Regions from separate parts of the Homo sapiens genome. Here regions 1, 2 and 3 are each linked to region 4. Evidence: fine-mapped expression QTL. A gene starts in region 4. Each other region holds a variant in brackets. All regions are shown on one strand. Distances are between the middles of the regions. Region 1 has its middle 17 kb from the start of VSX2. Region 2 overlaps ENTPD5 (ectonucleoside triphosphate diphosphohydrolase 5 (inactive)). Region 3 overlaps ENTPD5 (ectonucleoside triphosphate diphosphohydrolase 5 (inactive)). Region 4 holds the start of PTGR2 (prostaglandin reductase 2).

Region 1 (7,797 bases), 370 kb after region 4:
TTTTTGTTGAAGGAATTGGCAGGAGAGAGCTTGGGTCCACAGTATATTCATCTGTAAAATGGACGCAATCGCCCCCAATTTCTATAGTCGTTCCGAGGATACAATGAGACACTATGAGACACGGAGGACACAATGAGACACAAGCCTCCGGAGTGTTATTATCAGTGGTACAGAGCTGTCTTCAGATATGCAAAGGAAGTGGATTTCTTTTGTGTGTTACCAGAAGGAAGCTCCATGGCCAGAAGGCAGATGTTAGAGAGGAAGATTCTGAAAGATACACACTGTCCTATAAGGGTGATAAGAGCCACCATGTACTTGTCTTGGTCTCTTCCTTAGGTGCCAGGCACTTAAGCTTCACAGCACTCTATGAGGTAGATACTGTCATTACCTGCGTTTTGCAGACGTGGGAACTAAGGTTAGGAAACGGCACACAGTGGTGGAGTTGGAATCAAAAACAGCTCTGACTCCAGAATTTTCTGGGGCATTCTGCCTCTCAGGATCTGCTTCTAAAAGGGGGAGCTGATGTCTGAGAGCCACTCCGCCCCCAAAGTAGTGAGCTTCCCATTTGCCAAAAGTGTTCAAGGTGATGCTGAGGGGCCACACCAGGAACCACCGGTCAGGAGCCCTGAGGTCCCATGGCAGCCCCCAATCCTCCCAGCATCCCCAGGCGCGGGTTTCCAGGAGGAGCCAGGCCACTGCCCCCTCCCCAGCCTGGACACAGAGGGGGCTCCGTTTGGCGCCCTGGGCCTCCCTCTCCCCCACCTTCTGCTGCTCCTCATTTACATAAATTATCTCTCTCCAATTATCCATCCAGCTGTCCCAACGGTGATCTGTGAATGAATTAAAAATGGAATATAATTTAATAATGGCTGATTAGAAGGAGATTAGTTGTTATATAAAAATGAAAAGCCAAGAGCCAGCTAGTTGCCCTTAATCTGAGCCAATACCATCGTTATTCCGGAAAGGCCCCCTGGCCACCATCAGGCAAGGCAGACACGGGGACAAAGACTGGGGGAGTGCCAGGTGGGGCTAGACCACCCCAGAGAGAAGATAGGGCACTGGGAGGCTGGAATTTGCAGCATCTCTGAGCTGTGGGGCGTGGGCATCTCCTGTGGCTTCCTTCAAAACAGGTTTGGGTGGCTTCTGGGGTCCCTTTTTGCTCTAAATTCTAGTCATCCTTGAATCAAACCACTGGGCTTTCCCAAGGCAGCCAATGACTTACACCAGACCCTGCTAGGCATAGGATCTGGGGTTCAGGAGTTTCGTTCCTGCTCAGGCCCCGCCTCTAAGAACACATAGCAGTAGGGAACACAGACTTCCCCTGAGGGGGTCTACCTGTCTAGGACAGGTGGTCAGAGAGGGTCTCAAGCTTGGTTGGTCCAGACGGTCCACGGAGGATGGACTGGCTGAGACAAAGAAGGGTGAGTGTGCCCAGTGGGACCTCTGGGCCATCTGAACCTCAGGTTAATGACTAGATCTAGTGAAGGGGACTAGTGCCTCTCCTCCAGGAAGTCTTCCCTGATCTCCTGGGCTTTGGGGTGTCCCCAGTGTTTCTACGATGCCCTGTGTTTTCTCCATCAGTGCACTGAGCACTGCCGATGGGGTGTTCAGGCCCCCGTTTGTGAGCTCCATGGCTTCTTCATGTCTGTATCACCAGTGTTGGGCACACAGTGGTTGCTCTACCACATCATTGAACAAATAAAGACACCACCTCCAAAAAGCCTCTGTGATTGCCCTAGTGTAGGTTATGCGCTCCTTTCTTTGCTCCCCAAACACACTGTGATTATGCCTTTAAAAATAAGGCAAGTCATTGCTGTGGAGAATATAGAGAAGGACAAAATTTTAGGTAAAGGTGGATAGATGGAGACAGAACAAAGTGGTTAAGAGGAGCAGTTTGGAGTCAGACTGCCTGCGTATGCATCCCAGGTCCACCTCTTATTGCTGTATGACCTGGGTGGGGCATGTTACTAATTTCTCTGTGCCTCAGTTTCCTCATCTATACAATGGGTGTATATAATAATAGTACCTACTCCATAGGATTTTGTGAGAATTAAATGGAAGCACTTGTGGCTCTTATAATGCTTGTCACACCGAGAGCCTCTCATCTCTGTTGATGGTGCTGGCTGGACAGTGGGCCTGCGCAAAGCCATCCCAACATCCCTGGCTGCTACTTTTACACTGCAGGGCCCACAGGGACACAACACTGTGGCGGGACCAGAATGTTTCACCAACCTCGGGCCTTCCTGAAGAGGCTCACAGCTCATGACATGCCCATGAGAGGGGTCTGAGCCCCGGGGCTCAGGTCTGGGCAGCGAGGCCTGTGTGACTGACATAAGAGGATGTCTGCTAGGCCTGAGCTTGCAGAAAAGGAATGAAAGGGCCGGGTGGCCAGAGGAGTTGGGCATGCAGACCAGGAAGGGAAGGCTGAAGAGCTCTCTGCAGCCGCTGACTCAGGCCTCAGGGGCCATCATGGAGCAGACAGCCAAGGAAATATTGTCCACAGTACCAGAGGCTGGGAATGAACAGGGTGGGCACCAGAGGAGGCTGATTCTCTCAAAATGAGAGGCAGTACAGATTGTGCACAGCAAGTGTTTGTTGATTGGCTAACTGAGCTGCACCGGATTTTTCTAAACTTTCTTAGTCAAGAAAATCTTGATTTCTTATGTTTGTAGAAGGGCCTGGGAATCCGCACATTTGACAAGAGCCCCCGGTGAGTCTCAAGAACAGGAGGTTTTGACCCCAAACTCCATCTGTCCCTCAGTCACTGCTGCAGTGCCCTCTGGCAGTGGGGGCTGACTGGTGACCCCCACCTTGCCCACTACCCTCTGACACTCACTCCCATCTCCACAGCCTCAGCTTCAGTCACTCCCAGGACAATCTCCCTGGTGAAGCCTGAGCACATCGGTCCATATTGCAGCCGGGGGAGGCCTCCCAGACCAGCCCAGGCTGTGGGATAATTTGATATTCAAATCCTGGCAAAGACCTGCTTCAAATTGCTGCAAATTAAGCTGATTTTGCCCCTCTGAATGAGGGATTTGCTCCTGTGGATCAACCCTCTTCCCAGGACTTGATGAGGTCAGGATTAGAGACGGGGAGAAAAAGCCTGAGGCCGGAGGCCGGAGAGCTGGAGAGCTGAGGGGCGGGGGGAAGCCGAGACCCTGGAGTTAGTGAAGGTTCCCAGGGTCTCAAAAGGCAGCTCTACCCAGTGATAGCAGAGCCTCTGAGGCCCAAATGGGTCAGCCCCACTCCTCCATCCCCCCAGGAGAGCACAGCTCTGTACTGTTCCCAAAGCAGTTTGTGGACCTCATCCAATCTTTCCAAGCACCTGTGACCCAGGG[C/T]GGAACCGATCACCCCCATTTTACTGATGAAAGGGGAGATGAGGCTTTATTGGCAAAGACAATCTGGACTCAACCACTGCCACCGACTTGCTACGTGACCTTGAGCAAGTGACCTCTCTCTGAGCCTCCTTGTAAGGATGACTGGCGATGCATACACAGTGCCAGGCACATAGCAAGCCCTCCATAGCATGGGCCAAGTTCCTAGCCAAAGCCCTGAAGCTAGAAAATAGCTGAATGGAGAACGTGGGGCTCTCTGGACCTCAGGAAGAGTCAGTCCCCTGCCTTCACCTGGAGGTCTGTGCCTTCTCCCAACTGTACCCCTCCTGATAGGACCTCCCCCATCCCTGGCAGAACCTCATTTCCATCTGTTTTCTCAGGGCCTGTACTGTATATTGCAGCAATTTCAAATGGCACCATTAAAGATTTTATGCTGGAGACGTTAAAATTAAAAAGATCTATGTGCAAAGAGTCACAACGAATTTAATCAACTTGATTTAATAGAAAACAGCAAATGGAATTTATGATGCTCCAAAAGACAAGGGAATTTTTTTTTCAACAAAAAATAATAAAAAGCACTTTGTGGAAAACAGAAAGTGGAGTGGGGTGGGGGTGGGGGCTCCCCATCTGAGAGTTGATCAGAACTTAATCCGCCGTGAACAACCCCAGTCGGGGCTGTTTGCCCACTAATCCCAGCTGCCATTAAAATATTAAAGATAAATCTAATCGTCTCTTTATCCAAAATAAGCGACTTTTGTGTGGGGAGAAAACATCTAACCCTTTGGGAGGAGAATTAGTCCTAATGCATCAAATGGAATTCGGTCCAGGCAGGGGCAGAATAGGGTTTACAGGCAAATGAGATGGTAATAGAAATAAAACCCAGAATAACAAATTAAAAACCCTCATTTACACGAATTAAAACAGCTCACAAAAGAGCCGGAGGCCCAGCCCTGCCCTCCTCGGCCCCAGGCCCATTCCCCCCTCCCCTGGTCTCACCCACCCGCAGGCCCCAGAGGAGCCAAGGCCTGACCTCATCCTTGCAACTTCTGCCCCACACCCTCCTGGATACTTACAGAAAAATGCACCCAACATCCGCTCTCCAAGACCAGGCGCAGGCTGGGTTTCTGAAGGCTCTCACTGAGTCTTCATTCATCTCCCCATCTCTCCTGCACCAGCTTTGGGGTCAGAAAGAACTTCATGCTTGTCCCAGTGCCCTCCCCTACTATGTGAGGTCTTGATTTGTTTCTATTTATTTATTTAAAATATATTTTTTAGAGACAGGGCCTCACTCTGTTGCCCAGGTTGGAGTGCAGTGACTCAATCACAGCTCACTGAAGCCTCAAACTCCTGGGCTTAAGTGATCTTCCTGCCTCAACCTCCTGAGTAGCTGGCACTACAGGTGTGCACCACCATGCCTTTCTATTTTTTTTTTTTTTTGGTAGAGATGGGATCTTGCTATGTTGCCCAGGCTAGTCTCAAACTCCTGGGCTCAAGTGATCCACTGGCCTCAGCCTCCTAGAGTGCTGGGATTAGAGGCTAGAGGTGTAAGCGACCACGCCTGGCCCTAGTTTTGTTTCTTAAAACCCCTGAGCCCCTATTACTTGGGGAAAATGAGGATAATAACGGCTCCTGTGCTCACACAGCCCTTCTCCCCAGCCTTGACCCCTGCTGCTGCTCCCTGGCCTGGCTCCACAGAATTTGATGAGGCAGCAGCATATGGAAGGCCCAGCACTGTGTCTGATCCACGGGGACCGCTCGATCACAAGCTCTCACAGAAGTCTCCCCCAAAAGGATTCTTAGTCAGCTGGGAGGAAGGACGCCTAGCAATGGGCCAGCCAGGGGGGCAGAAGGAGCAGGCAGCAGCCAGTTTGAGTAACTACGTGGGGTCACCCACTGGGTTGTCACTCATGGGGGCTGAGGCCAACCCAGATCTTCAGGGTTCTCCCTAAGTGGCCCCTTGCCCCCCAAGGTTGCCTCAAGTTTGGCCCTGTGGCTCCTCCTGTGTACCTTCCCCCGAACTGGGAACCCCTCCCCACCTTCTGCTCAAGGTCTGAATCCCTTCACATGAATATCCTGCTCTCTGCCTTAGTGGCTGGACGCTTCTCAAAGGAGATGCACGCTCCCTCAGGAGGCTCCAGGACCCTCTGCAAGCCATCACAAACTCATGAGGTCTTGGTACAGACAAGTGTGACAAACCCCTTCCTGAGAGCCTGTTTGGCTTGCTGAGGGGAGAGGGTGGGGAGGGGGCCCTTGTGCCCAAGTAACCCCCACCACACACACCCTACTGGAGTCCCCACACCAGGAGGGCCGGAATACACCTCTGACCTCCCCAGCCTTCCTAACAAATCCACTTGAACAGGAAACTCATGTTGACAGCATTCTATTATGGGATATTAAGTGGAATTGGATTGTGGGGCTAAACCTTTCCCTGGCTGGGTTTCTGCATTCGGTTGGCCTCCTCACCTCTGCGCCTACCACAGTCCTTCCCTCCAGCAGGGCTCGACGGGAGGGAGGGGGGTTTCCTGCCCACCTTCGTCAAATTATTCCCCCAGACTCTGTCCCCGACCCTTGGACTATGACAAATGGTGATTCTAGTAGCGATTTTCAAGAGAAAATTGGGCTGTGGCCGTGTGAGAGTGGGTGACCTTCTTCCCAACTTCTTCCCAGGATGGCTAAAAGAAAACACGAGGATGGCCAGGCGCAGTGGCTCACGCCTGTAATCCCAACACTTTGGGAGGCCGAGGCAGGCAGATCACCTGAGGTCAGAAATTCAAGACCAGCCTGGCCAACATGGTGAAGCCTTGTCTCTACTAAAAATACAAAAATTAACTGGGCCTGGTGGCACGTGCCTGTAATCGCAGCTACTTGGAGGCTGAGGTAGGAGAATCACTTGAACCCGGGAGGCGGAGGTTGCAGTGAGCCGAGAGTGCATCACTGGACTCTAACCAGGGTGACAAGAGCAAAACATCAAAAAAAAAAAAAAAAGGAAGGAAGAAAGGAAGAAAGAAAGAAAAGAAAAAGAAAAGAAAAGAAAAAAGAAAAGAAAAAAGAAAAGAAAAAGAAAACATGAGGAGATGGTGGGCAGGGTGGGATTTTTCCAGAGGGGTGTCCTAAGCCTGAGATTTGGTGGAAAAGCGTTGGGAGGAGATGGTCACAGGCAAAGGAGCTGGGGCCTCACTGCTGCAGGCTAGTGATCATTCTAGCTTCATAGTCCAGCCCCACTGCTGCCTCCTCTAGGAAGTTTTCCCTGCATGGCCCATATTAAAAAGGGGAAACTGAGGCATGGTGAAAGCTAAGTTCCCAGGTCACCGGCTAGCAGGTGGTAAATGGGGGACATGAGCCCAGGACCATGTAATTTAAGAGCCAGAGTCATTAACCACTACACCACGCTGCCTTGTGGGTGATCTTTTTATTTTTGGAGACCGAGTTTTGCTCTGTCACCCAGGCTGGAGTGCAATGGCTTGATCTCGGCTCACTGTAACCTCCAACTCCTGGGTTCAAGCGATTCTCCTCCTGAGGAGGAGAATCAGCCTCCCGAGTAGCTGGGACTACAGGCATGCGCCACCACACCAGGCTAATTTTTTGTATTTTTAGTAAAAACGGGGTTTCACCATATTGGCCAGGCTGGTCTCAAATTCCTGACCTCAGGTGATCCACCTGCCTCAGCCTCCCAAAGTGCTGGGATTATAAGCGTGAGCCACTGCGCCCGGCCCTTGTGGGTGATCTTGGCCTGGAGGAGATTGGGGAGAATGAAAGGCTGAAAGACCCAGCACCCACAGTGCGCGGGGGCCTGTCTGCATGCTTCATCGCCATCATGTCCCTGGGTCCTCTCAGTCTCACTGCAGAGCAGGTTTTCAAAAGAGATTCCCATTTTACAGAAGGAAAAACTGAGAATTGAAAAGGTTAAGGGAGCCCTTTCTCCACTTTTGTTCACGTTACAGGCCTTCCTCCGGAGCCCTCTCTTCCTCCCCCTAACACCTTGCCAAGTAATGCCGACCTGTCTTCAGGCTCATAACAGTGTTCTGGGCAGTCTTCCCGGATGCCCGTTTCCTGAGACCTTGGCCCTGGCCCTCCACCCCCACCCTACCAGGCTTCCCATCTTCTCTCCTACCCCAAGTCCCCCCAGAACATAGCCATTTGCACCCCACCTCCCAGTCTTGCCCTTTGCCACCCACAGGCTTCTGTGCTCTGTCCCTGGCCAGTCACTGAGTGCAATGAGGCAGAGGCCCTGGCAGGATCCCCCCATGGACCCATCCCAGTGCCAGAGTTTGGCAAGGCATTGAGAGCAATGGGTGGTTCTATAGGTGGGTTCTGTCAGCCTTAAGTGGAAAGGACTTGAGCTTGAGTCAGGGAACACCCATAGACATTTAGTAAATGTGTATCAAAGAGGAGTAGAAGACATTTGGGGTATATTACAATGTACACAGGGAGGAAGAAAGTTTACAAAACAGTATACAGAAGG
Region 2 (7,797 bases), 150 kb after region 4:
CAGGAATAAAACCATGAATCAAGACACGGATGTGGAAAAGGGATGGGGGCCCCTGAGGAACAGTGAATGGATCAGTTTGACCAACTATAGTAGAAAATAAAGTTGAAGAGATAGATTGAGGTCACATAGTAGAGGACACCAAATACTCAGCTAAGGAGTTTGGACTTTACTCTGCAGGTGATAGGAAGCCACTGAAGATATTGAACTAGGGAGTATCCAAATACGAATCTGGTAGTTACATGTAAGGACTGCAGTCAGGAGCCTTGTCAGGACCACTCAATTGCTTAATTCTACTAATGCTTACTGATGCCTACTAACTGCTAGGTGCCAGAAAAGTAAAGGTGAGGAAAACAGATCTTTTTATTCAAGATGCTGAGTCTGGCAGAGGTGGCAGACATATATAAAAATAACCGTAACTTTTTAAACTAAGCATAAAAATGGTAAAGAAGCTAGGCGCAGTAGCTCACGCCTGTAATCCCAGCACTTTGGGAGGCCAAAGTGGGTGGATTACCTCAAGTTAGGAGTTCGTGACCAGCCTGGCCAACGTGGTGAAACCCCATATCTACTAAAAATACAAAAATTAGCCAGGTGTGGTGGCATGCGCCTGTAATCCCAACTACTCAGGAGACTGAGGAACGAGAATTGCTTGAACTCAGGACGCAGAGGTTGCAGTGAGCCAAGATCACAGGATTGCACCCCAGCCTGGGTGACAGAGTAAGACTCTGCCCCCCACCCCCCCAAAAAAAACAAAGGTAGGCCGGGCACGGTGGCTCACTCCTGTAATCCCAGCACTTTGGGAGGCCAAGGTGGGCGGATCATGAGGTCAGGAGTTTGAGACCAGACTGACCAACATGGTAAAACCGTCTCTACTAAATATACAAAAATTAGCCAGGCGCAGTGGCGCGTGCCTGTAATCCCAGCTACTCAGGAGGGTGAGGCAGGAGAATTGCTTGAACCTGGCAGGCGGAGGTTGCAGTGAGCCAAGATCAAGCCACTGCACTCTAGACTGGGCAACAGGGCGAGACTCCGTCTCAAAAAAAAAGGTAAAGGGCCGGGCGCAGTAGCTTACACCTGTAATCCCAGCACTTGGGGAGGCCAAGGCGGGCGGATCATGAGGTCAGGAGTTCCAGACCAGCCTGACCAACATGATGAAACCCCATCTCTACCAAAAATTTAAAAATTAGCCAGGCATGGTGGCATGCACCTGTAATCCCAGCTATTCAGGGGTCTGAGGCAGGAGAATCACTTGAACCCAGGGGGCGGAGGTTGCAGTTAGCCGAGGTCGCGTCACTGCACTCCAGCCTGGGCGACAGAGCGAGACTCCATCTCAAAAAAAAAAAAAAAAAAGGTAAAGGAACAAAAACACAGGACTAACTCCCTAGAGGATTTGGAAACGCATCAAGAAAAGACATTTGAGACCAGGCACAGTGGCTCACGTCTGTAATCCTAGCACTTTGGGAGGCCAAGGCAGGCAGATTGCTTGAGCTCAGGAGTTCGAGACCAGCCTGGGCAACATGATGAAACCTCATCTCCACCAAAAATACAAAAACTAGTCAGGCATGGTGGAATGCACCTGTAGTCCCAGCTATTTGGGAGGCTGAGGTGGGAGGATTGCTTGAGCCCCCTGGGAGGTGGAGGTTGCTGTGAGTTGAGATCGCACCACTGTACTCCAGCCTGGGTGACAAGACTGAACCCCGTCTCAATTTAAAAAATATATATATAAGCATATATAAAAGAAATGGCTGGGCACAGTGGCTCACGCCTGTAATCCCAACACTTTGGGAGGCCGAGGAGGGTGGATCACCTGAGGTCAAGAGTTCAGGACCAGCCTGGCCAATATGGTGAAACCCCATCTCTACTAAAAATACAAAAATTGTCCAGGCGTGGTGGTGTGCCTGTAATCCCAGCTACTCAGGAGGCTGAGGTGGGAGAATTGCTTGAACCTGGGAGGCGAGGCTGCAGGGAGCCGAGATCATGCCACTGCACTCCAGCCTGGGCAACAGAGCAAGAACCTGTCTCAAAACAACAACAAAAAAAATGAAATGACATGTAAGCAATCATGAAAAATGGACAGAAATAACTACAGAAATAATAGAGACCAGATGTGTATAAAGACCAGAGAGATTAGAAAAAGATGATAGGAAAAGTATCGTTTGATTTCATTTAAAAATTTCCTCAAGAGCCATATGGAGTGGCACGTGACCATAGTCCCAGGTACTCAGGAGGCTGAGGAAAGAGGGTCACTTCAGCCAAGGAGTGCAAGTCCAGCTTGGACAACACAGTGAGACCCTATCCGTATAAAAATTAAAAATAGCGAGGCCAGGTATGATGACTCATGCCTGTAATCCTAGCACTTTGGGAGGCCAAAGTGGGAGGATTGCTTGACCCCAAGAGTTTGAGACTAGCCTGGGCAACATAGTGAAATGCTATCTCTACAAAATATTAAAAAATTAGCAGGGTGTGTCTGGGCGCAGTGGCTCATGCCTGTAATCCCAGCACTTTGGGAGGCCAAGGCAAGCGGATCACGAGGTCAAGAGATCGAGACCATCCTGGTTAACACGGTGAAATCCCGTCTCTACTAAAAATACAAAAAATTAGCTGGGTGTGATGGCGGGTGCCTATAGTCCCAGCTACTCGGGAGGGTTAGGCAGGAGAATGACGTGAACCTGGGAGGCCGAGCTTGCAGTGAGCCGAGATTGCACCACTGCACTCCAGCCTGGGCAACAGAGCAAGACTCCATCCCAAAAAAAAAGAAAAAAATTAGCCAGGCATGGTGGCGGGCACCTGTAGTCCGAGCTACTCGGGAGGCTGAGGCAGGAGAATCGCTTGAACCTGGGAGGCGGAGGTTGCAGTGAGCCGAGATCATGCCACTACACTCCAGCCTGGCGAGAGAGCAAGACCTCATCTCAAAAAAAAAAAAAAAAAAAAAAAAAAAAAAAAAAAGCCAGGCATGGTGGTACACACCTGTAGTCTCAACTATTCAGGAGGCTGAGGTATGAGGATCATTTGAGCCTGAGAAGTGGAGGCTGAGGTGAACTGTGATTGCACGGCACCACTGTACTCCAGCCTATGCGACAGAGTGAGACCCTGTCTCAAATAATAATAATTAAAAGCCAATGTCCTCAAGAATTTTTTATATGAATTTGAGAAACAAAAAGTAGAAAACTAGTGAAAGAGGATATAGAAGAAGAGGGTTAGCATTTAATGCAGAGGATAAAGATTGTGGTCAAAGAAACATAATCTGAGATTTTAAAAAAATAGTAACCAATATTTACGGAGATCTTAGTAGATGCCAAGCATGATGTTAAGTATTCTACATAGATTAGCTCATTTAATCTCACATTACTGCTCTGTGAGTTAGGTGCTATTATTAAGATTCCCATTTTATAAATGAGAAAACTGAGCTTAGAGAAACTAAGTATCTTAAGACCACATCGTAGTTAAATGAAATGAGCCAGAAATCAAACCCAGATGGTTTAATTCCAGAGCCACAGTCTTAACTAGTAGGCCACCCAAGAAGGATTATCTAACAGGGCTCTTGGAAAAGACAGATATGGGAGTGGGGAGGCGAGTGTAGAGCAGAGAATGGTCTGAGATGAGGCTGGAAAGTGAGACTTCCATCAGGATGTGAAAGTCTTACAGCAGTCTGACCTTCTTACATAAAATCAAGAGCTTATTTATTTATTTATGTAGAGATGGAGTCTCACTATGTTACCCAGGCTGGTCTTGAACTCCTGGCCTCATGCAATCCTCTAGCCTCAGCCTCCTGAATAGCTGGGATAACAGGGTTGAGCCACTGTGCCCAGCTAATCAAGAGATTTTGAAGATCTTAATTTCCTGCTGTTGAATACATTTCCAGAATCCGACCATTTCTGACCACTTCCATTGCTACCACCTTCGCCCAAGCCACTATCATCTTTCATGTGATTTGCTAATATTGTCCTAACAGATCTTCCTGCTTTTATCCTCACTCCCCTGGAGTTTGTCTCCTTTTAACAAACAACCAAAGTCATCCTTTAATATAAATTAGAGTATGTCTCTGTTTTATGCAAAATCCAGCACTGGCTCCCCATTTCAGAGAAACAAGGTCCTGAAAATAGCCTTCTGCTTCCATCCCCACTACATCTCTGACCCCATCTACTAATAGTTTTCACCTTACTCTCCC[C/G]CAACACTGACCTCTGCGCTTATTCACTCATGCCCCTGCCTTAGGGCCTTCGCTCTAAGCTGTCCCCACTGCCTAGAAATTCTTTTCCTATATATCCACTTGATGAATTCCTGCAACTCCTTCAAATACTTGTTTAAAAATCACTTTCTTATTGAGATCTACTTAATACTATAACCTCTCACCTTCACATGCTCCCACCTCTACCTGCTTTCTCAACTCCCCTTACTCTGATCCACTTTTCTTTTTTCCACACCACTTATCACATTCTAACATACTGGAAAGCTTACTGATATTTATTGTCTGTGTTCCTCTGATAGAATATAAGCTCCTCAAGAGCAGAAATCTTTTTGTTTACTGGTGTAACCCAAGAACCTAGAAGAGCGTCCAAGGTGGAATTCAATAAAAACTGACAATAGAAATGGGCTAGGGTTTCTCTCAGCCTTAGCGCCATTTTCTTGGAAACCTCTGCATCATGAGAGCTAAGTGGAGGAAAAAGCGAATGTGCAGTCTGAAGCACAAAAGAAGAAAGATGAGGCAGAGGTCCAAGTAAACCGCTAGCTTGTTGCACCGTGGAGGCCACACAGGAGCAGAAACATGGAATGCCAGATGCTGGGGATGCTGGTACAAGTTGTGGGACTGCATGCTATTGTGTAGAGCTTGTCTCAATGGATCCAGAACTTCACCGCCCTCTGATCGCTGATCACCTCTGAGACCCACCTTGCTCATAACCAAAACTGCCCATGTTGGTCCTCTGCCCTGGACCTGGGACATTCTGGACTATTTCTGTGTTTACTTGTGGCCGAGTATAACAACCATACGATAAATCATCTCTTCTGCTGTCTTAGCTGAAGAATCAAAAAAAAAGAAAAAGAAAAAAAGAAAAAAAAAATTGGCTGGGCATGGTGCCTCATGCCTGTAAATCCCAACACTTGGGAGGCTAAGGCAGGAGGATCACTGGAGCCCAGGAGTTTGAGACCAGCCTGGGCAACACAGCAAAACCCTATTAAAAAAAATTTTTTTTTAATGAAAAAATTAGCCAGGCATGGCAGTGCACACTTGCAGTCCCAGCTACTTGGGAGGCTGAGGCAGAAGGATCACTTAAGCCCAGGAGTTCGAAGCTGCAGTGAGCTAGAATCATGCCACTGCACTCCAGCATGGGTGACAGAGCAAGACCCTGTCTCAAAAAATAAATTAATTAAGTAAATAAATACATGTATTAAGCAATAAAAATATTTATTATCTCATCCCTTTTTTATTTTTTTGAGACAGAGTCTCCCTCTATTGCCCAGGTTGCAGTGCAGTGGCGTGATCTTGGCTCACTGCAACCTCTGCCTCCTGGGTTCAAGTGATTCTCCTGTCACAGCCTCCGAAGTAGCTGGGACTACAGGCACCCCCCACCACACCCGGCTAATTTTTGTATTTCTAGTAGAGACGGGGTTTCGCCATATTGGCCAGGCTCAAACTCCTGACCTCAGGTGATCCACCTGCGTTGGCCTCCCAAAGTGCTGAGATTACAGGTGTGAGCCATTGCGCCCGGCCTATCTCATTATTTCTGTGGTTTGGGACTCTGAGAGTGGTTTAATTAGACAGTTTTGGCTCTGAGGCTCTCATGAGATTGCAGTCAAGATGTAGGCTGGGGCTGCAGTCAATCTGAAGGCTTGACTAGGCCTGGAAGACCCACCTCCAAGATGGCTCACTCAATGGTTGGCAAGTTGATGCCAGCTGTGGGCAGGAAGTCTCAGTAGCTCCCCGTGTAGATCCTCCATAGGGCTGCTTGAATGTCTTTATAACCCAGTGGCTGGCTTCCTCCAGAGCAGTCAATCCAAGAAGAGCAGGGCAGAAGCAGTAATGTCTTTTATGACTTTGTTTTGGAAGTCATACACTATCATATCCCTATATTCTAATGCTCATACAGACCAACCCTGACGAACTGTAAAAGGGGACTACACAAAGGCATGAATATTAGGAGGTGAGCATCACTGGGGGGCATCTTGGAGGCTGGCTACTGTAAGCTGTAACCAGTATTTGTGTAATATTTTGTGGGGTTTTTTTTCCAGTATACCATATATATATTTCAATAAACACATCTTACATACTTCTTATTTTAGGACCTGCATGTTATTCCAATGATATTAACTGTTTTTGTTCATTTGTTTATTCTTAGAAAAAAATAATATATAGAAATAAGCCAGGTTAGCTGGGCATGATGGGACATGCCTGTAATCCCAGCTACTCGGGAGGCTGAGGCAGGAGAATTGCTTGAACCCGGGAGATGGAGGTTGCAGTGAGCTGAGATCGCACCATTGCACTCCAGCCTGGGCGATAGGGTGAGACTCAGTCTCAAAAAAAAAAAAAAAAGAAAAAAAGAAAAAAAGAAAAAAAGAAATAAACCAGGCGTGGTGGCTCATGCCTGCCTGGGTGAGAGAGCAAGACTCGGTCTCAAAAAAAAAGAAAAGAAATATAGGCAGGGTTTCACTATGTTTGTCAGATTGCTCTCAAACTCCTGGCCTCAAGCAATCCTCCACCTTGGCCTCTCAACATGCTAGGATTACAGGTGTGAGCCATCACATCGGCTGCTATTAACTCTTAAAAATGAACAACTGGCCAGGTGCGGTGGCTCACGCCTGTAATCCCAGCACTTCGGGAGGCTGAGGGGAGTGGATCACCTGAGGTCAGGAGTTCAAGACCAGTCTGGCCAACATGGTGAATCCCCATCTCTACTAAAAATACAAAAATTAGCTGGGTGTGTGGTGCACGCCTGTAATCCCAGCTACTTGGGAGGCTGAGGTAGGAGGATCGCTAGAACCCAGGAGGCAGAGGTTGCGGTAAGCTGAGATCATGCCACTGCACTCCAGCCTGGGAGACAGAGCAGGACTCCATTTCAAAAAAATAAATAAAAAACAAAACAAATAAACAAACAAAATGAACAACAATGCTGACTTGACTTTTAACTTCCATCTTCTGTTATAGTCCTAATATTTTACTTAAGGAAAAGAATTAAAGTCAGAAAAACTACAACTCACACAATGTACTTCTTGTTTCTAAAGGTGAAAAGAAATTTAAATACCTTTTTGTTTTTTTTGAGATGGAGTTTTACTCTTGTTCCCCAGGCTGGAGTGCAATGGCATGATCTTGGCTCACCACAACCTCTGCCTCCCAGGTTCAAGAGATTCTCCTGCCTCAGCCTCCAAAGTAGCTGGGATTACAGGCATACACCACCAAGCCCAGCAAATTTTGTATTTTTAGTAGAGACAAAGCGGGGTTTCTCCATGTTAGTCAGGCTGGTGATCATCTCAGGTGATCCACCTACCTTGGACTCCCAAAGTGCTGGGATTACAGGCATTAGCCACCTCGCCAAGCCTTTTTTTTTTTTTTTTTGAGACGGAGTCTCGCTCTGCTGCCCAGGCAGGAGTGCAGTGGCACAATCTCGGCTCACTGCAAGCTCCGCTTCCCGGGTTCACACCATTCTCCTGCCTCAGCCTCCCGAGTAGCTGGGACTACAGGTGCCCGCCGCCACGCCCGGCTAATTTTTTGTATTTTTAGCAGAGACGGGGTTTCACTGTGTTAGCCAGGATGGTCTCGATCTCCTGACCTCGTGATCCGCCCGCCTCGGCCTCCCAAAGTGCTGATAT
Region 3 (7,797 bases), 120 kb after region 4:
GACTCCTGGCGGAGACTGCAGGGACAAGGTCATCTTTCACAAAAAATGGAAAGGTGGCCTAGATGAGGAGGACACAGACTCTCCAGAAGTTATGCAAACAAAATCAGGCAAGATGAAGAATTTTAAGGCACACCTCCATTGGCCCACAGAGAGTGTTCTTCATATGACAATGATGTTAAACACCATCTGTCACGTACCAGGCCATGTCCTAAGTATTTTAAATATGTTAACACATCTACAAAGAGGAAACTATTAGAATCTGTAGGACCTCTTAAGCCCAAAGGGTCTACTGCAGGCAGGATGGGCGTTACAGAAAAAAATAAAAACTCTCATTCCAAATTGCTCCTAAGATGGACAAATTGGTTACTTCTCCAGAAGGTCTAATCAAGGTTAACAAAATAGGTAAGTTCGTGGAGTTAGAATGCATCTTCCCTGGAGTTCAGAGGTATTTGGGATGACCAAAGGAGTCTGCTGGACAGTATGTGTGTTTTACAAAATGGCCCCCACAGTGATTAAAGACCAGAGACTTATATCTCTGCATTTGTCAAGCTGGAACAGTCTTTAGTGAACACAGCTTACCTCTTTTAAAACTGCTGGTTTCTACTGAAGGAAACATGGATGACATTTAGTGTTCTGTGACTGGTCTGGCACCCTACTTTTGTTGACAAAGATGGGAAGGGGTCTAAAAGTCATGTCACTTATAAAAGAACTTGGGAGGAACTTTTTTCAAAAGATCCAAAGATTTTGGAAGGAGAGATTAGAGCAGAACTAAGACCACTTAGAAGATAGGTAGATTTCAGCTCAATATAAGGAATTTTTTTTAATATCAGTGCAGTTCCAAATGGAATAAGCTGTTTGAACATGGCTTAGCAGAAGCTGAATGACAACCTGTTAGAAATTCTAGGGAATTCTGCACTGAGTACAACATTGGATTATTTCTTTGGGCTGTTTCCAACTCAAGATTCTGTTATTTCATTATAAGCATTTTGAGGAAGGCAGTTGGTATAAAGGTGACCTTAGTAATAAAAGTCAGTGTGAAGTCTAAAGAAATTCCACAATGAATTTAAAGACAAGAATTTTAGGGACAAGGATACAGAAATTTGCCTAGTAACTTGCACACAGCAGATGGTAAATATTTATTGACTCAATGGAGTAATGTTAAAAATAAGGTTTCCCATGGACTGTGTGAGGGCCAGGCATACTTAACATCCTTTGTGAGAGAGAGGATGGAAACGGAGTCTACTGTGAAAGCCACAAGTTTTGGGGAAATACACTCCTGCAAAGAAGCTGGAGGTTAACAACCAAGGCAAAGGGGCCAGACCACAGGGAGATCTTCCAGGTCCAAGAGCACTGCAGGGCAGATGAGAAGCAGGGATGATTATGTTGAAAGTGCAAGATAAGGCCAGGCGCGGTGTCTCATGCCTGTAATCCCAGCACTTTGGGAAGCGGGTGGATCAATTGAGATCAGGAGTTGGAAACCAGCCTGGCCAACATGGTGAAACCCCATCTCTACTACAAATACAAAAATTAGCCAGGAATGGTGGTGGGCACCTGTAATCCCAGCTCTTCAGGAGGCTGAGAACAAGAATCGCTTGAACCTGGGGGCGGAGGTTGCAGTGAGCTGAGATTGCGCCACTCCACTCTAGCCTGAGCAACAGAGCAAGACTCCATCTCAAAAAAAAGTGCAAGATAATGAATTTGGGGTAAATAATTCACAGTCAAGAGCTCTGAGCACTTGGATTCAAAAAGAGAGCATGAGGGACATTAAATATGGTTCTCCCTGGAAATGTTGGTCCACTGTACTGATGTGGGCTGAGAGAGCCAACCAAATCCAAGTGGGGTTTTGTCAGGAACGGTATTGGAAACTCTGAACTAGATAAATAATTCAAAGGATATTAGCTAAAGTGATCAGGGACCAGGACAGGAAGGTACTGTTACAAACGGAGAGAATAAAAGGGCAAACTGAAATAATAGATCCTGGAATAGCACAGACACTGACCTCTGACCACAGACCAAAAGTTAGGGCCTAGTTGTATTTCTTAGAAATACAAAGAAAACAAGTTTAGAATCATAGAAAACACTGTTAACACATTAGCCTGGGAGGTGGTACTGGCACTGAATATACACATACCCATAAAGTCGGATATGTTCATTAATCCCAGAGTTGACTGATAAAATGCTGATTAAAGCAAAGGTAGGCTATATGAGGCAGCCACACCCTCCCAAAACATGTCCCCAGAGACCGGGTGGCCTTCTTTCTTAAGGCTGTAATTTATGCACAGTTAGGAGTTACTCTCTCATCCTATTAATATTTAGGATGGCTCTCAGCTGGCTGATTGGAGCTAACACAGAATAGGATCATACAGATTCTGACATGGTCCCATTTTGCGTTGTTGAATTATACATGGAAAGCAAAACCAGGTTTTTTTTTTTCTCTCTTTTTCAGGGGAGGTGGGTGCAGATAAGGGTGGGCAGGGCACTGTATAGGGAGGAAAAAAATACTGATATTGATGGGTCTTGGGATTGCAATAAGTCAGTTTACCATTTAAGAGGAAAATTTAAATATTCAGTGGAATGAGGCACTCAAAGGGTTGAAATGCGATTTTTCTTTGGTTTCCAGGGACCTGTCCCTGGGCTCTCACTCCAAGGTTAAGTTCCAAAACTATACTTTTTGGCTCACAGGGCTCTCTGTGATGCTCTGGTGCCAGCTGTGTACTCTTGAGTGGTTAGGCAGCAGTTCACATTAGATGTGTAAAATTAATTAAACCTAAATCTCTAGGCTCAAGTCCAGGATGTCCCCAGACTAGTTCAGAAACTAAGTGCTCTCTCCTCCCCTTAAAAAGGTGTTGGCAAATGCAGGTCTCCAAGGAAGTACGTGGCCTCAATGGGAGATGCCCAGAGACTGCAACAGGTGAAAGGTGGCCCCCAAGGCCCAGCCCGTCTCTATGTTGTTCACTTTCTTTGTGAGCTGTTGAGAAGAAAAAAAGTCTTCACCTTTTCATCCAGTTTCCAACTCTAGCAAGCACAGCTCTTGGGCAGAAAATATTGGCAAAGAATATCCACATGGGCAAACCAAGGCAAAACGGACAGAAGCCAGTCTTTGCAGGCTTCCCACTACTCTGTAACAATTTCCTTCCGGCCATGGCCCATTGGCCATTGCCCCTACACCCACCATTCTCATATCTGAACTGAATGCTTCTGGCCCAGGTTGTGGCCCATCAGGCCTTCTAGAGAGATAGTTTAGACAGACAGTATTCTGAACTTTCCCTAACGTTGAAACTACACAAAGTATCCCCTGCTTTATTTTCTGATTCACTAATTTCAGATAAGGCAACTTGTAATGATAATAGATGTGGCAGAAAGAGCATGGTCAGGAGGTGAGAATAGATCTAGGGGTAGGAAAGAACAAACCAAGCTTCTCAACTCCTACTATGTAAGCAAGTGCCTCTTCCTAAGCACTAATAATAACCAAACATGGGGCCAGGCGCAGTGGCTCATGCCTGTACTCCTGGCACTTTGGGAGGCCAAGGCAGGTGGATTGCTTGAGGCCAGGAGTTCAAGACCAGCCTGGGCAACATGGCAAAACCCCGTCTCTACAAAAAAATTAGACAAGAGTGGTGGCACACACCTGTAATCCCAGCTACTCAGAGGGCTGAGGTGGGAGGGTCACTTGAACCCGGGAGGCAGAGGTTGCAGTGAACTGAGATCATGCCACTGCACTCCAGCATGGGTGACAGAGCAAGACCCTGTCTCAAAAAAAAAAAAAAAAAAGAAAAAAAAAGAAACGAACAAAAAAGGCCAGGAGTGGTGGCTCATGCCTATAATTCTAGCACTTTGGGAGGCTGAGGCGGGTGGATCACCTGAGATCAGAAGTTTGAGAATAGCCTGGCCAACATGGTGAAACCCCGTGTCTACTAAAAATACAAAATTAGCCAGGCATGGTGGCGCATGCCTGTAATCCCAGCTACTTCGGAGGCTGAGGCAGGAGAATCAGTTGAACCCGGGAGGTGGAGGTTGCAGTGAGCTGAGATTGCACCATTGCACTCCAGCCTGGGCAACAAGAGCGAAACTTGGTCTCAAAAGAAAAAGAAAAGAAAAAAATAATCAAACAGGGAACTTAAGACATTCTAAGCCAGTACATATCTCAATTAGCTTAGTGACCTTGGGCAAAACTTTAGACCCAAATTCCTCAACTATATAAGAAGAGGATTAGATTAGTGTTTATCGGTTTATCAATTTGTTTTCTTCAGAATTTTAGGGGTTTCTTAGAAATGCTTCGAAGGAAAAAGGGAGGCCAAATGATAGAGGAGTTTCAGGCCCCCAATCTCTGCTTCAACCAGAATAGTTCCACTTTTACCAGTTTTATATTACTGATACT[CT/C]TTTTTTTTTTTTTTTGAGACGGAGTTTCGCTCTTTGTTGCCAAGGCTGGAGTGCAATGGTATGATCTCTCCTCATTGGAACCTCTGCCTCCCAGGTTCAAGTGATTCTCCTGCCTCAGCCTCCCAAGTAGCTGGGATTACAGGCACCTGCCACCACGCCCGGCTAATTTTTGTATTTTTAGTAGAGACGGGGTTTCACCATGTTGGCTAGGCTGGTCTCGAACTCCTGACCTCAGGTGATCCGCCCGCCTCAGCCTCCCAAAGTGTTAGGATTACAGGCGTGAGCCATCAGGCCCGGCTGTATTACTGATATTCTACATAAGTTTTTGTTGGATAAAGATGCTACCACCACCAAAAAAGTCTATAAACCAGTTGATTGTTCTGTGTTGACCTGATGTAATAGAGCCTAGACACTGTGCCCAAAACTGGGGATAAATAACTTACTACAGATAAAGTAGAGCCTGCAGGTACTGAAACAGATGGAGAGAGACAGGAGGACAAAGAAAGACCTAAGATTCAAGAGGCATTAAATATACGAGGCACACATGAAATATATATGACACATTACATATGCATGAGGCATTCAGTGTTCATGAGGCCTTAAATAAGCCACTCACTGGTGACACCCTCTTGGTCTCTCATGTCCTCTGCCAAAGAAAACCCATCTTATAGGCTAATGACTGAGCTAATGCAAATGGCCATGTGTGTGTGCCCCTGGGGCCTCTCCAAATAGGGCAAGTTTGTGTGGTGGCCTCAGGCACCTTTTGTCTTTGTGCTCCCATGACCGAACTTCAGCTCTAGTATGTGTAACCACTCTATTAGCAGCAGAGACAGGCAGGACATATAAACCTAGGACAAATGGAACCCAAGATTCAGAGAGTGTGGCACTTGCATCCTGCTTGCACCGTGTCTTCTGTGTTCACCTCTCCAACTCTTTCCCCTTGCTTCTCACCCTGAGTTCTAAACTGATTTAATAAACCATGTGGGCCGGGTGCAGTGGCTCACGCCTGTAATCCCAGCACTTGGGAGTTCGAGGTGGGCGGATCACCTGAGGTCAGGAGTTCTCAGGAGTTCGAGACCAGCCTGGCCAACATAGTGAAACCCCATCTCCAATAAAAATACAAAAAAATTAGCCAGGAGTGGTGGCGCATGCCTGTAATCCCAGCTACTTGGGAGGCTGAGGCAGAAGAATCGCTTGAACCCAGGAGGCGAAGGTTGCAGTGAGCTGAGATCATGCCATTGCACTCCAGCCCAGGAAACAAGAGCGAGACTCCATCTCAAAAAAATAATAATAAATAAATAAATAAATAAATAAACCATGTGACTTGGCATCTTAATTTGGGCTGCTAGTCTTTCTGTTCTGTGACCTGTGCGATAGCTTGCCTGGTAATACACTCGGAGGCTACCATTGCATTGAGATAATTTCCCACATTCATGGTGCCCAGCACAGTACCTTGTCCATAGCCCAAACAAAAATACCTCATAATTTCACTTCTAGCTACTCTGATTACTGAACAAGCTCTTACTCCTTCTCAACCCCCACAAAAGAGGGCTGTTATGAGACTCTGGTGTCCTGTCTCTTACCTGTAAGACTGTGCTGTCTGCAAAGCCAAAGCCATCCTTTAACAGGGCTGTGATGTAGCTGAGATCCATGCACAGGAAAGGACTGCCTGAGGTGAAGTTTTCCAAGTTATCACACACTGAAAGAGAGAGTAAACAGTGGAGCTCAAGTTTGCAACTAACTGAGAGGTGTAGGATTTTCTCTTAGAAAGAAGTGGAATAGGGGCCAGGCGCGGTGGCTCACGCCTGTAATCCTAGCACTTTGGGAGGCTGAGGCGGGTGGATCACCTGAGGTCAGGAGTTTGAGATCAGCCTGGCCAACGTGGTGAAACCCCATCTCTACTAAAAATACAAAAATTAGCAGGGCGTGGTGGTGTACCGCTGTAATCCCAGCTACTCGGGAGGCTGAGGCAGGAGAATCGCTTGAACCTGGAAGGCAGAGGTTGCAGTGAGCCGAGATCTCACCACTGCACTCCAGCCTGGGTGACAGAGCAAGACTCTGTCTCAAAAAAAAAAGGTAGGGGGAGAAGAAGAATAAGCAAAGCAGAAGTCTCCCTTTGGTTAATGCTTAGGCATCTCAGAGACTAGACTGCACTGACTGCCTCTGTAAGACCGCAGCTTCTGAAGAACTTGCACATCTCTGGTATGATTATCTATTCACATTTACATGGGCTCTAGTTTATTTGCTAAGTTTCTATGACCTATTGTGGGGGCTTAGTTCTAAATCCCTTATCTATTATTAATGGTGAGGCCCAGAAGACAGGGAAATATCATTTAACCCTACTGTGGGCTACTCGATAAGATCATTTGTATTTTATTTTTTAATTTTTAAAAACTTTTTATTAATTTTTTTTTTTAGAGACAAGGTCTCATGCTGTCACCCAGGGTGGAGTGCAGTGGCATGATCACAGCTCCCTGCAGCCTCAAGCTCCTGGGTTCACACGATCCTCCTGCCTCAGCCTCCCAAGTAGCTGAGACTACAGGTCGAACCACTGTGCCTAGCTCTCTTGGTAGTTTTGATCCTCTCAAGGAAGCCTCTGTGGCTATTTACCATGTCTTTTGATGCTTAGTGTTTCATTAACACTGATAACACTATTTCAATTTAAAAAAGAAAGCAAGAAATGTAGAAGGAAAAAAAAGGTCTTCACCATTTCCCTAAAGCCCTAAAGCCTCTTTGTTTTTTTTTTTTTGAGGTGGAGTCTCACTCTGTTGCTCAGGCTGGAGTGCAGTGGCACAACCTTGGCTCACTACAACCTCTGCCTCCCAGGTTCAAGCGATTCTCCTACCTCAGCCTCCCGAGTAGCTGGGATTACAGGCGCCTGCCACCTTCCTTGGCTAATTTTTGTATTTTTAGTAGAGATGGGGTTTCACCATGTTGGCCAGGCTGTCTTGAACTCCTGACCTCAGGTGATCCGCCCACCTTGGCCTCCCAAAATGCTGGGATTACAGGCGTGAGCCACCGTGCCCGGCCTCCTAAAACCTCTTGTATTCCCATATTCTTGCCCATAATTCTATGCTGCATAAAGCTGAAAAAAAATTTATTTTTTTAGAGACAGAGGTCTCACTATGTTGCCTAAGCTGCAATGCAGTGACTGTTCACAGGTGTGATTATAGTGCACTATAACCTTGAATTTCTGGCCTCAAGCAATCCTCCCGCCCTGAGTAGCTGGGACTACAGATGCGTGCCACCATGCCTGGCTACCACCCAATGCTTTTAACTTTTAGCAAAGACTGGAAGACTCAGAAAGGAAACTAGCCTTCTGATAGGCCTTCTGAGCTGACTGAGGTGCTTTAGGTCACTTTAGGTCACTAGAGTAGGCAGGCAGTCTCACAGGCTTACCTTCAAGGGCTTCCCCTG
Region 4 (7,797 bases):
TTTTTTTTAAGAGACAGAATCTCATTCTGTTGCCCAGGCTGGAGTGCAGTGGTGCAAACACAGCTCACTGCAGCCTCGCCCTCCTGGGCTCAAGTGATCCTCACACCTCAGTCTGTCAAGCAGCTGAGACAACAGGCACACACATCACACCAGGCTAATTTTTAAAATTTTTTGTAGAGGTGGGTTTTGCCATGTTGCCTAGGCTGGTGTTGAACTCCTGGGCTCAATCGATCTTCCTACCTCTTGGCCTACCAAAGTTCTGGGATTACAGGTTTGAGCCACAGTGCCTGGCTTTTTTTTTTTTTTTTTTTCTTTTTTTGAGACAAAGTCTTACTCTGGCACCTAGGGTGGAATGTAGTGATGAGATCATAGCTAGCTGCAACTTGGAATTCCTGGGTTTAAGCGATCCTCCTGCCTCAGCCTCATGAGTAGCTGCTGGGACTGCAGGTGTGTGCCACCACACCTGGCTATTTTTTTTCTTTTTGTTTTTTTTTTTGGTTGTTGTTTGTTTTTTGTAGAGATAGGGGTCTCCTATGTTGCCCAGGCTGGTCTGAAACTTCTGGCCTCAAGTGATCCTCCTGTCTCGCCTCCCTAAGTGCTGGAATTATGAGTGTGAGCCACTGCACCTGGCCTATATTTATCATGCTTGAATGAAACAATATATACTATGTATTTTTTTTTGATAAGATGGAGATGAGAAGAATTGACACTTCCTTCTAGTGAAGTCTAGAAAATGATTCTCAGGGCTGGGCGTGGTGGCTCATGCCTTTAATCCCAGCACTTTGGGAGGCCAAGGCAGGTGGATCACCTGAGGTCAGGAGTTTGAGACCAGCCTGGCCGACATGATGAAACCCCATTTCTACTAAAAATACAAAAATTAGCTGGGTGTGGTGGCATGCACCTGTAGTTCCAGCTACTCAGTAGGCTCAATTGCTTGAACCCGGGAGGCAGAGGTTGCAGTAGGCCGAGATCGTGCCACTGCACTCCAGCCTGGGCGACAGAGAGAGACTCCGTCTCAAAAAAAAAAAAAAAAAAAAAGAAAAGAAAAAAGAAAAAAAAGAAAATGATTCTCAGGAATTGCTTGAACGATGAGAAGGAGGCAGTACAAAGTTCTGCAAAGAGGGAGGAGTAGGGAATTCCAGATTTATGGCAAATATAACAAAGGGTCAGGTGCTTGGACTCAGGCAGGATAACTTGCTCCTTTACTTATTAGTTACTTAACCTGACTTAGAACTTAACTAGCTTAACTTCGGTTTCCTCATTCGTAAAATGGTAATAATAATAATAGGGCTGTTTTGAAAATTAAATCATGTAGGCAAAAAATCATATAAGGCATTATCCAACTCAAACTACGCATTATGTAAATGATAGTAATCCTTGGTGTTAGAGAAAATTTAGAAGAAGAGGATAAACTGGATAGAAATGTACCTATAAATCCTCTACTCATCTCTTGAATTTTTGGGAACTCATTTTGGCGAGAAAAATCACACTTGTTACAAGGAGTTCACAGACCCTAGAATCAAGAGAGCTAAAACTAATTAATACACATACATATATTTAAAATTTTTGAGACAAGGTATCAGTCTGTCACCCAGGCTGGAGTGCAGTGGTGTGATCAAGGCTCGCTGCAGCCTACTGAGCAGCTGAGAGACTACCAGCAAGCACCACCACACCTAGCTAATTTCATTTTATTTTTTATTTTTTGAAGAAATGCGGTTTCACCACGTTGCCCAGGCTGGTCTCGAACTCCTGACTCAAGCAATCCACCTGCCTCTGCCTCCCAAAGGTCTGAGATTACAGGCGTGAGCCACTGCGTCCAGCCCCAAAACTAATTTAATATTGCAGGGCTTCTTTTCTATTTTGAAAGTGTTTCTTTTAAATCAAGTTCTAGATTACCTTTATTTTATACTACTACTTTTTGTCTATTTGAGCATTTTATTTTTCATCATTTGGTTTAAGTCATTACAAAAGGCATTGAAGGTCTGTCTACCTGTCCATGACAGATAAAAGAGATTAGCTCCTGTCTGAAAATGTTTGCAAAGTAGTGTAATTCTCCTAGTCCTTCCTGAAGCTTTCCCAAAGAAGCAAAAATATTCAGACATAAAGCTACCAGGAACTCCAACCTGTTTGATCACTATTCCCTTGCTCACCAACCTAGTCATCTTTCAGCTACTCCATGCATGACTTGTGCTGAGCTATTAGCTCCCACATGAATACAAGCAATTCTTATACCTGCCTAATTCAGATGATCTTTCTTAGGGTTTGAAGTCCCTGGGGATCCGAAGCTGTCCTAGGTATACACTTCTCTCAACCCAGTCCAGCACAAAAGGAGACGACTAACGATGAATGAAATTGAGAAATCAGCCCACACTGGTAATCTTGGAGGAATTTGGTATTCTTCGTGAAATAAAAGAGGCGCAAAGGGGCCCTGGATTAGGGTCCGGAGAGAGGGGTTTTATCCCAGCACTGCCCCTAACCAGCTGAAAGGTAGGTGGTCCAATCACATCAGCTCTCCGAGACTCAGTTTCCCCATCTATAAAACAAGGAGTAGGCTTGACGGTCCCTGTCTCACTATAATTTCCCAATCGAGGTTCAGGGAGAAATCCACAAAACTAATAAAACTTCTTCACGGACTGCTAAATGTGAACTCACTGGTCAAGGCTGCAAGATTTGCTCTTTGGGTCAAGGCAGTAGGGGCGGCCACAAGGAACCAATCTCAGTTAAGTTATTAATGCACTTTGCCCAGACTAGTAACTCTCCCCTGACGTTCCGCATTTCCCTTGCTTCTCCCGGAAACGTGGGGCGCCCAGGAATCCTAAACTTCCAATCCCTAAGCTTCCAAACCCCGCCCCTGGGAGGGGAGGGGGCGCGGAGCCGGGCCTAGTCGCGCGCCTGCGTACTGCGGTCAGAGGGCCGAGGCCTGGGGGCGAGCTGGGGTCGTGCAGTACAGCCTCTTTCCGGCAAATCACGCGAGATTTCGTTCACCCGGGCTCCACAGGGTCAGTGACGCGCGAGCGGCTCCCGCGACTGTGGCTCCCGAAGCTGCTTCGGGCCCCAGCGGTGAGGAAGAAGACTCTCAACCAGGGTGACTTCTAGGCGTCCTCCCGGAGCTACCGGGGACACTGGCGTTATTGCCCGCAACACTGAGATAGGGAATGCTCGAGAAACAGAAGCAGGTTTTGGGGTTTTTTTTGAATTACTGGGGGAAAGCAACCTGAGGTTTTGACGTAATTGTGTTTGAGGTGCCTCTGAAACTTTCATTTAACACAGATTTGTTGAGCACGTACCATGCGCCGGGCATAGGGGATTGGACTCACATTTTTTTGTGTGTGTGACGGAGTCTCGCTCTGTCTGTCGCCCAGGTTGGAGTGCAGTGGCGCGATCTCGGCTCACTGCAGCCTCCATCTCTCGGGTTCAAGCGATTCTCCTGCCTCAGCCTCCCGAGTAGCTGGGATTACTACTGCGCCCGGATAATTTTTTGTATTTTTGGTAGAGACGAGATTTCACCGTGTTAGCCAGGATGGTCTTGATCTCCTGACCTCGTGATCTGCCTGCCTCGGCCTCTCAGAGTGCTGGGATTACAGGCGTGAGCCATCGCGCCCGGCCTGGATTCACATCATTGAACAAAGCAGACGAGTCCTTATCCTCTTAGCGCTGACGAGCTGGGCAGTTAGTTTGAAATTCTGGGCTAGAGACGCAAATTATTATTAATTTCCATATAAAGTGGTTGGTAGGAGGAGCCACAGGGCTCAGGGAGGTCACTGAGAAAGGGAAGAGCAAGATAGGAATCTCCACATGCAAGACTTCGGGAGGGGAAGGGGGAGACCAGAAAACCGGAAGGGGAGGAGAAGACTGGCAGAGAGATCCAGAAAGACACGTGGTTTGTTTGTTTGTTTTTTGAGACAAAGTCTCGCTCTGTTGCCCAGGCTGGAGTGTCCTGGCTGGATCTCGGCTCACTGCAGCCTCAGTCTCCTGGGTTCAGGCAGTTCTCCAGCTTCAGCCTCCTGTGTAGCTGGGACTATAGGCGCCCACCACCACGCTTAATTTTTGTATTTTTAGTAGAGCGGGGTTTTCCCATGTTGGCCAGACTGGTCTCGAATTCCTGGCCTCAAGTGAGCCTCCCACCTCAGCCTCCCAAAGTGCTGGAATTACAGGTGTGAGCCACGGCTCTGGGCCCAGAAAGATACGTTTTATAACAAGGCGTGGTCAACAGGGTTGCTAGTGGCAGAATAATCGCACGAAATAAGGGTATTAAAAGGTATTAGGAAGCTCATGTGATGGAAATAGCAGGTGCCGTGTTGGAGTATGGGTTCTAGCGTTATTACAAGTTGGGCGACTCTGGGCGAATTATTCTCTTTCTGTACCTCTTTTTTCTTCTCTTTTTTCTTTTTTTTTGAGATGGAGTTTCGCTCTTGTCGCCCATGCTGGAGTGCAATGGCGTGATCTCGGCTCACTGCAACCTCCACCTCCCGGTTTAAAGCGATTCCCCAGCCTCAGCCTCCAGAGTAGCTGGGATTACAGGCGCCCGCCACCACGCCGGGCTGATTTTTGTATTTTTAGTAGAGGTGGGGTTTCGCCGTTTTGTCGGAGCTGGTCTCAAACTCCTGACCTCAAGTGATCTGCCCACCTCAGCTTCCCAAAGTGCTGGGATTACAGGCCTGAGCCACCATACCCGGCCCCTTTTCTCATCTATAAAATTGAGAGGATGATATTACCAACCTCACAGTTTTTTTGGGGTGAGGGTGGGGGAGGTGGTTTAAACAGGCTAGTGAATGAGTCTGTGCTCAGTTCCTGGCATTTAGGAATATTAAGGAAACAGGTTGAGAGAAGGGACTTTTTCCAAGTTCCCACCTGGTTAGAACTAGGAGAAGTACTCTGTTCTTCCTACTTAAATGACCTTTCCCTTTTACCAGGCTGCAAGGTAAACACTCAACACACTCTATCATCACATCGGAGCAAATTCGTCTGTTATTATTTTGGAATATTAGCACCAAGTAGGAATAGTATCCCAGGCAAATAGGATTTGCTGAGTTTTTTTCCCCTACTTGGGATGAATTTAACAATCTACCCTTCTTTCAGATCTTGGAACTTGATGTGTCTTATTTTAGCTGTTAATTTTATGACTAAATCTAGGTATCTATATTTTATTTATTTTTATTATTTATTTATTTTTTTGAGACAAAGTTTCGCTCTTGTCCCCCAGGCTTGAGTGCAATGGATCAGTTTCGGCTCACTGCAACCTCCGCTTCCCAGGTTCAAGTGATTCTCCTGCCTCAGCCTCCGGAGTAGCTGGGATTACAGGCACCCGCCACCACGCCTGGTTAATTTTTGTATTTTTAGTAGGGCAGAGTTTCACCATGTTGGCCAGGCTGGTCTCAAACTCCTGACCTCAAGTGATCCACCTGCCTCAGCCTCCCAAAGTGCTAGGATTACAGGTGTGAGCCACCGTGCCCAGCCAAGTTATCTATATTTGAAATGTGTGTTTTTTTGGTACTATTGAGGGATATCACACAATTATCCTATATTAATTGTAGTATTTGACACTTGAAAAGTTTCTAATTTAATGCAGAGTGAGAGAACTTTAATAGTATATTTTTCATGCTGATAAGCAGTGTTTGGACAAATCTATAATATACATATTAATATGTTAAACAAATAAAGCATACCATTGACAGTAATTAGAGGGCAAATATGATATTTCATTTGGAAAGACTGCTTTGAAAATTTAGCCATTATGGTTCTATTACTACTTAAGGACTTTTAGACCCACTTAATTTGGAAAACTTTGGCTTTTTAATCCTTATATAATTGACACATATGGTGATTCTGTAGAAAGTTTCCTTTTTAAAACATATGTAGCCCTACATGACATTATGGACCTCTTGGTGTGATGAATGGATGTGGCACCACCCTTAAAGATTCTTGCCTGAAAAATTGAACCTGAAGTAATCAAGCCTCTAGATGTAACTAGCAGTCATGGATAAGGGGAGGAGATAGAAGAAACATTTCCTTCTTTCTTTAAAAGCTAGTCATTTACCTTGTGATGGTAAATGACACCATGAGGAAGCAATCAAAGAACATTCTACAAGCAAAGTAATGAAGAAACAAATCAAGGGCATGAAATAAATGGAAGGGAGACTCAAACTGTAGTATGTGGACCTTGAATCCTGATTTTAATGAACCAACTGTAAAAAGACATCTTTGAAACATTTTTGAAACCAACTGTAAAAAGATATCTTTGAACATCCTGAAACGTCAGGAAATTTGAATATGCACTAGGTATTAGATGATGATAAGGAATTGCCAGTACTACTATTAGGTGTAATAATGGCATAGTGTTTATGTTTAAATCTGTGATGGCTGGGTTATAGTCATTTGCCATATAATGACGGTTCAGACAATGACAGACGATGAGCCTCCCATAACATTATAATGGAATTGAAAAATTCCTCTTGCCTGGTGATGTCATAGTCATCAGAACGTTATAGTGCAATTACTTTATTTTTATTATTTATTTATTGAGACAGGGTCTCACTCTGTCACCCAGACTGGAGTACAGTGGCGTGATCTCGGCTCACCGCAACCTCCACCTCTTGAGTTCAAGCAATTCTCCTGCCTCAGTCTCTGAGTAGCTGGGATTACAGGCGTGCACCACCATGCCTGGCTGATTTTTGTATGTTTAGTAGAGACAGGGTTTCACCATGTTGGTCAGGCTGGTTGTGAACTCCTGACCTTAAATGATGCACCTGCCTCAGCCTCCCAAAGTGCTGGGATTACAGGCATGAGCCACCACGCCCGGAGTATTACTTTATTTTTTAAGAAATTTAGTGGGGCCGGGCGCGGTGGCTCATGCCTGTAATCCCAGCACTTTGGGAGGCCGAGGCGGGTGGATCATGAGGTCAGGAGTTTGAGAACAGCCTGACCAACATGGTGAAACCCCGTCTCTACTAAAAATACAAAAATTAGCCGGGCATGGTGGCACGCACCTGTAATCCCAGCTACTTGGGAGGCTGAGGCAGGAGAATCGCTTGAATCTGGAAGGCAGAGGTTGCAGTGAGCTGAGATTGCGCCACTGCACTCCAGCCTGGGCGACAGAGCAAGACTCTGTTTCAAAAAAAAAAGAAAGAAATTTAGTGTAGTCTAAGTGCATAGTGTTAATAAAGTCTAAGTAGCCTACAGTAATGTCCTAGGCTTTCACATTCCCTCACCACTCACTCCCTGACTCATCCAGAGCAACTTCTAATCTGGTAGGCTCCATTCATGGTAAGTTACCCTATATAGGTATACCATTTTAAAATCTTTTTTGTTGTTGTTTTTTTTGAGGCGGAGTTTCACTCGTCACCCAGACTGGAGTGCAGTGGCGCAATCTTGGCTCACTGCAATCTCCACCTCCAGGGTTCAAGCGATTCTCCTGCCTCAGCCTCCCAAGTAGCTGGGACTACAGGCATGGGCCACCTGCCCACCGGCTATTTTTTTTTGTATTTTTAGTAGAGACAGGATTTCATCATGTTAGCCAGGCTGGTCTCGAACTCCTGACCTCAGGTGATCTGCCCGCCTTGGCCTCCCAAAGTGCTGGGATTACAAGGGTGAGCCACCGCTCCCAGCCCATTTTTAAATCTTTTACCCCATATTTTTACTGTACTTTTTCTATGTTTAGATACACAAATACTTACCATCGTGTTCCAGTTGTCTGCAGCATTCAGTACAGCAACATGCCATATAGGTTTGTACCGTAGAAGTTATAAGCTAAACCATATCACCTAGGTGTCTAGTAATCTGTACCATGTAGGTTTGTGT

What was found. PIP is the estimated chance that this variant, and not a neighbour inherited with it, causes the effect. A credible set is the group of variants that fine-mapping cannot tell apart.
Region 1: its variant is the best candidate, but not a certain one, in a credible set for the expression of PTGR2 in lung (GTEx, PIP 0.59).
Region 2: its variant is the best candidate, but not a certain one, in a credible set for the expression of PTGR2 in tibial nerve (GTEx, PIP 0.57).
Region 3: its variant is the best candidate, but not a certain one, in a credible set for the expression of PTGR2 in subcutaneous fat (TwinsUK, PIP 0.71).

Annotation. Positions count from the first base shown.
Region 1 is chr14:74,218,847-74,226,643 of GRCh38, forward strand. No RefSeq gene overlaps it. Among named protein-coding and RNA genes, the nearest start is that of VSX2, 17 kb to the right of the region's middle. The variant C/T (reference allele first, on the strand shown) is at 3,339.
Region 2 is chr14:73,998,759-74,006,555 of GRCh38, forward strand. The region is part of intron 3 of ENTPD5 (ectonucleoside triphosphate diphosphohydrolase 5 (inactive)); the gene reads right to left. It also overlaps the pseudogene RPL41P4. Among named protein-coding and RNA genes, the nearest start is that of ENTPD5, 17 kb to the right of the region's middle. The variant C/G (reference allele first, on the strand shown) is at 4,166.
Region 3 is chr14:73,964,047-73,971,843 of GRCh38, forward strand. It overlaps ENTPD5 (ectonucleoside triphosphate diphosphohydrolase 5 (inactive)), which reads right to left. Exons shown (of 16, transcript NM_001249.5): 15 at 5,964-6,079; 16 at 1-2,968. The coding sequence ends at 2,882. Among named protein-coding and RNA genes, the nearest start is that of COQ6, 18 kb to the left of the region's middle. The variant CT/C (reference allele first, on the strand shown) is at 4,379.
Region 4 is chr14:73,848,945-73,856,741 of GRCh38, forward strand. PTGR2 (prostaglandin reductase 2) reads left to right here and starts at 2,887. Exons shown (of 10, transcript NM_001146154.2): 1 at 2,887-2,999. RefSeq lists a silencer at 2,621-3,023 and an enhancer at 2,633-2,682.